Linked DNA regions of Homo sapiens: region 2 is linked to region 1. A link means that fine-mapping ties the variant in region 1 to the expression of a gene that starts in the linked region. Tissue or cell type: whole blood. Region 1 holds a variant in brackets; the other region holds the start of a gene. All regions are shown on one strand. Distances are from middle to middle.

Region 1 (2,758 bases):
CCACAAGCGATCCTCCCACCTCAGCCTCCCAAAGTGCTGGGATTACAGGCATGAGCCACCGTGCTTGGCCTCATTGTTTAATATTTAATGAAAGTATACATGGTGCTAAATTTATTTAGCCTCAGTCAGTGACCCCTAACAAACCACTAAGGCATTCCATGCCAGGCTGACCAGGTACAGTGGCACACAAGCCAAATGCTACTGCCACACAGCCTCCTTTTTAAATGTCCCAGAGTAGAGAGGAATAGGGACAGCTGCATTTTTGCAGCCAGCAAGGAGCTCCAGAGAGATCCTTTCCCAGCAGCCCCTGCCTTCCAGACAGGCGTTCTTATGCTCCAGTTATGTTCTGCAAATCTCAGCTTTTTTCATGTCCTCATCAGTCAACATCATCAGCAAGCTTTGCGGGGAGAAAGCCAAAAAAGTTCTTATCTTTAAAAACAAAAAAAAAAGAAAGGAAAGTCTTGCATTAGACGGACTTTGTCCAGCGCTGTTGCACCCGCCCTCCCTTCCTTCCACTCATACCTAACTTTGAAAACTGTCCCCAGGCATAATAAAATCCCCCTGGCTGGATTTACGACCTTCCAAGCTGCAGTGGAGAGGAAAAAGGCCCAACTCTGAGAAAAACAAGTATCCAGGGAGGACGGTGTGTGCTGAATTTTAAAATGTTAAATTACGGTGAAAAATTTGCTGGAAAAGAAACTATCTTTCAAATTGTGCTACATAGTAAAGTTAATAGAGCCCATATGTCCTCTACTAAAATTTAGAAAAACAAACTAAAAACAATACTTTCGCGCCTGCCAGGCTGAAATGTGATCTACTTCTTAATATTCACCCAACACAGGGTAAAATGCTTTAAGATGGTAATGATTCCAAAGCGCAGCTCAAGCTCAGTGGATAAACAACAGACCTCAAACCCTGGGGGGCTCATGTTCTCATCATAGCTCTGGGCAAGTCACTTAATCTCATGGTTCCTTCTCAATTTTCTCAGCTCTGAAACGGGGATGGCAGCACTTCACGAGGTGTTTATGAGGCATACTAAGATGGTTGTAAAACATTTTACAAATGTTTAATAACTGATGCCCTTTTCATAATTTGGCTTTATAACATCTTTCATTATTCA[TTCAG/G]TGGTGTGGAAATAAATGAGTACAGGGGCTATTTACTCAGAGCTTGCTATGCTATGGGAGTCAGCTTCCATCACTTTGGCAGAAGGTCAAAGCAGGCAGAGGAGTGAGAGAATTTACAGTGACAAAAAGGGAAGGCTTCAGGTTTATCTGGATTGGAGCTTATTGGCACGAGGAAGTGGGAGATGGACTGCTTAGAAGCAGGGCAGGCTGGGTGCGGTGGCTCACGCCTGTAATCCCAGCAATTTGGGAGGCTGAGGTGGGAAGCTCACAAGGTCAGGAGTTCAAGGCCAGCCTGGCCAACATAGGGAAACCTCGTCTCTGCTAAAAATATAAATAAATAAATAAATAAGCCGGGCATGGTGGTGCGTGCCTGTAGTCCCAGCTGCTAGGGAGGCTGAGGCAGGAGAATTGCTTTAATCTGGGAGGCAGAGGTTGCAGTGAGCCAAGATCGCACCACTGCACTCCAGCCTGGGTGACAAAGCGAAACTCTGTCTCAAAAAAAAAAAAAAAAAAAAAATGAAGCAGGGCATCTTCGGTGATTAGTCTGGGGAGCATCTTTGGCTTTCTCTGGTCGGTGCTGAGTTGGAAGCCAAGTGGTTTGGCTTCCCCAGCTGGTTGCTACAAAGTTTGTGAGACTCAGTTCTATTCCCCATGGTCTGGCCATTGTTCACTGTTGGTATATTCATCCGTGAAAAATTAAAGATAGGAGGGTTCTGACTACCCCAGGAGAAAACCAGGTGCCTGCCTAGCAGCCTAGGGAGTAATTTATATTTCTTATACCTTTTAAATACTTTTAGAAGAAGCAAATTTAGAAGATAGACTGCTGAACCAACAATTTTCACTCTCTTGAGTCACTGGGCACAACGAGCTAGCAATCAGGACAATTGAGTTCCAGACATGAGTCTATTATAAGATGGGCAAAAGGGAGGTGGGAAGACTGACAAGTCACATAACCTCTCAGGGCCTCAGTTTCCTTGTGAACAGCCTGCGAGTTCCTATCTGTCTACCCTATTGCATTGTTTGGTTTTGAGGATAAGTGGCCTAATAGTTTGTAAAAGGACCCTATAAAGCAGATTTTTTTTTTTTTTGAAATAGAGTCTTGCTCTGTCGCCCAGGCTGGAGTGCAGTGGTGCAATCTTGGCTCACTGCAACCTCTGCCTCCTGGATTCTAGCGATTCTCGTGCTTCAGGATCCCGAGTAGCTAGAATTACAGGTTCACGCCACCACGCCTGGCTTATTTTTGTATTTTTAGTAGAGACTGGGTTTCACTGTGTTGGCCAGGCTGGTCTTGAACTACTGGCCTCAAGCGATCCGCCTGCCTTGGCCTCCCAAAGTGCTGAGATTACAGGCGTTAGCCACTGCATCTGGCCCCGGCTAATTTTTGTATTTTTAGTAGAGACGGGGTTTTGCCATCTTGGCCAGGCTGGTCTCGAACACCTGACCTTGTGATCCATCTGCCTCGGCCTCCCAAAGTGCTGGGATTACGGGCGTGAGCCACCACACTTGGTCCCTATAAAGCAGATAGTTTAAACCCTATAAAACAGGTATTTTAGAAGTGTGCTATGGAAGAATGTGGCATAAGCCTTTGAAGATCCACCTAGTGGACTGGAGTCTTGAAAATGCCCACGTGTCCT
Region 2 (2,758 bases), 52 kb after region 1:
GCTGGTCTCGAACTCCTGACCTCGTGATCTGTCCGCCTCGGCCTCCCAAAGTGCTGGGATTACAGGCCTGAGCCACCCGCCCCCGGCCCAGTTTCCTGCTTTGAGGAAGCCAGAATACAAAACTCACTTGGTTCTTAGAAGCAGGTCATTTAAATAAACGGTGACTAGACCTCAGGTGAATTTGGGAGAAAGTGATTTGGCTGTTTCTGCTGTCCATCTACTTACAAACCTGCAGCACCTTTGGTTCAGCGCGCATTTCTTGGAAGGAGCGGAGTGGCTTAAGTCAGAGACCTGGATTGGGCTGAGGTACTGCTATTCATTACTTGAGTGGCCCTGGGTAAGTCATTAACCTCTCAGGTTCTCATTTTGCTCCTCTGTGCAATAAAGAATAAGTAACAAAACCTGCCTTTCCCCAGGGTAGTTTTGAGTGTCAAATATGATAACTTGTGTTCAAGCACTAGTGAACTCCAATGTCACTGAGGTACTTGTTAACATTGTGGTAGCAGCTCCACTTTCTTGCCCATCTGCCTCCAGGTAAGGGCGTGTGACAGCTGGGCAGGATGCATCTGATGGCTCCATTAGGGTTAACTGTTGGAGCGCCTCTGCCCAGACGAAAGCCTGGCAGGTGATTTCAGGGGGCGTCTGGGCCATTACTCCTGAATGCCCAATGCACTGGGAGTAGCAGAGGCTGTGCACAGTCTGAGATTCTAGGGAATCTTTTCCTTCTCAAGCTGAGAATTGATAATCGAAGCATGCCAAACATTCGTTATTATATGCAACTTGTAAAATCCTAAATAGTCTTGTCCAATTGTCCCTTTGCTCTTAGGTTTTGAGGCATTTATCTTGGAATTTTATCTGCCAGTTTAGAAATCTTTAGCTGGTCGGGCTTAATTCTGGGGGCAGTTTGTATTTCTGGGAAGGCGGGAGAAAAATGACAATCTCAGTTTTGAATTGGCGTTTTAATATCGTTCACCAGATCCACGCTGAAAGCCGGTGTAAACAGCGTTCAAAAATTCCGCCCTCCCAAAAAAAGGATGCTGAAACCGATTTCCAACCCCGAAGACGGAGCTCATCACCCCGCAACGGGATCCGCCGTGGCTCCCCGCGCGTGCACCGCGGCTGGGCAGTCTCAGGTGGCTGGGGGCGCGAGACCGGAGCCCCACCTGGCCCTGCCGGCGGCGGCCGCACAAAGAGCGGGGCAGACGGCTGCCCGGCCGAGCCGCAGAAAGTAGTCCCGACCACGCCGGCTCCAATGTTGTTCAACGCCGCCTCACGCCCTCCGCGGGGAGGGCCGAAGCGGCCGGTCCGGGAAAGAATCCCGCTGGAATGCGCCACCGGGAGGAGGCTTTCCCTCCCAGTTCGCCTCTGCTAGCCCAGAACCTCTCCCAGGGTCTCAGGCAGAGGCTGTGCGTGCGGTTGCCGACTCCCTTCCCTGGCCGTACAGGAGGCAGTACCGGGAGAAGGGGCTCGTTGCGCGCAGGGACACGGTCGCGGCGACCCTAGGAGGCGGTGCCGACCGTATCCCTGCGCCGCTGCGCGAGGCAGAGGCTGAATGAGGAGCTGCGCGGGGGAAGCGGGGCGCCGGGGGAGGAGGCGGCGGGATGGAAGCAGACGCTGGCGTCGCGCGAGCCCGGGGCCGAGCGGCGCGGTAGAGAGGGCGGCGGCGGCGCGCGCGGAACCTTGACGTGCCCCTTTCTTTCTTCTCTCGCTGGGAAGCTGGGAAGTATGAGCGTGCAGCCCTGCCGCTGCGGCGGCCGCCCCGGCTCCTCGCCTCCCCCACTTCTGGCCACCCCTCGCCGGTGAGAGAAGAGAACGCGAGAAGGGAAGATGGGGGCCGTCCTGAGGAGCCTCCTGGCCTGCAGCTTCTGTGTGCTCCTGAGAGGTGGGAAGAGTGGGGGCACTGGAAAGTTGGTGGGGTTCGGGGGGAGGTGGCCTTGTTGTATGTGTCTAGGGGGAGGGGAGGGACGGAGGAAGGGAGAAGGGGAGAGGAGCGGGGAGAGGCCTGGTCGTGGGGAGGGGGAGAGAAAGGGGCCCGGGAGCAGGGGCTGCGTGCACCGCCCGGCCACAATGCGGACCTGGCCTGGCTTCCCAGACCTTCCCCGGACACATCGGAGCTTCGATCCCGGCTGCTGGTCTTAGGGAACCCTTGGCACCCCATGCTGTCGGGATGACTGAGTGTCTGTGTGCCTCTCTCTGCCTGGGGTCTTCCAGGGAAAAGGGTCTTTGTACGTATTTTGGCTTTTAAAATGTTTGAGTCCGAGATGCTTTAAGGTTGGCCTTATCCATCGAAGCCCCGCCACCCACTCCCCACCCCGTTTCGGTGTTTCTTAGGTGAACTTTTAAAGCCCTCTTGCTATTTTTTCCAGGCCTTGTTACAGGTAATGATTGGCTTCCGTTTGGGATATAATGACCCTGGGTGAGAGCGCAGTTGGAAAGTGACTCCGGGGTTATAGGTCGAGCGTTTCAGCATTGGGAGCCTTCTGAGCTTCAGCCCATAATAAAATAAAACATTGCCCTTGTAACCTCTGGTATTCACGGCTTGCCCCTATTTTCGGAGTATGCAAGTGTACAGTTGGCACTAAGTAGGGAAATTCATCCTCGTGTGAAGAGGAGCCGGTCCTGGGACCAAAATGATAATTTGCTCTGCACCCCTGGGGACTGCTTGGCACTTTGGTAAATTGCATAGGCTGTTCGAGATAATTTGCTCTGGGAATCGCTTGAATTCGATGGCACTATGATGTTTTGAATTGGACTGCAA

Evidence for each region. PIP is the estimated chance that this variant, and not a neighbour inherited with it, causes the effect.
Region 2: it holds the start of LRP6, and the variant in region 1 is fine-mapped to the expression of LRP6 in whole blood (GTEx, PIP above 0.99).

Annotation. Positions count from the first base shown.
Region 1 is chr12:12,318,164-12,320,921 of GRCh38, reverse strand. No RefSeq gene overlaps it. Among named protein-coding and RNA genes, the nearest start is that of MANSC1, 31 kb to the left of the region's middle. The variant TTCAG/G (reference allele first, on the strand shown) is at 1,121.
Region 2 is chr12:12,265,805-12,268,562 of GRCh38, reverse strand. LRP6 (LDL receptor related protein 6) reads left to right here and starts at 1,519. Exons shown (of 23, transcript NM_002336.3): 1 at 1,519-1,882. The coding sequence starts at 1,828. RefSeq lists enhancers at 1,289-1,338, 876-1,512 and a silencer at 1,519-1,828.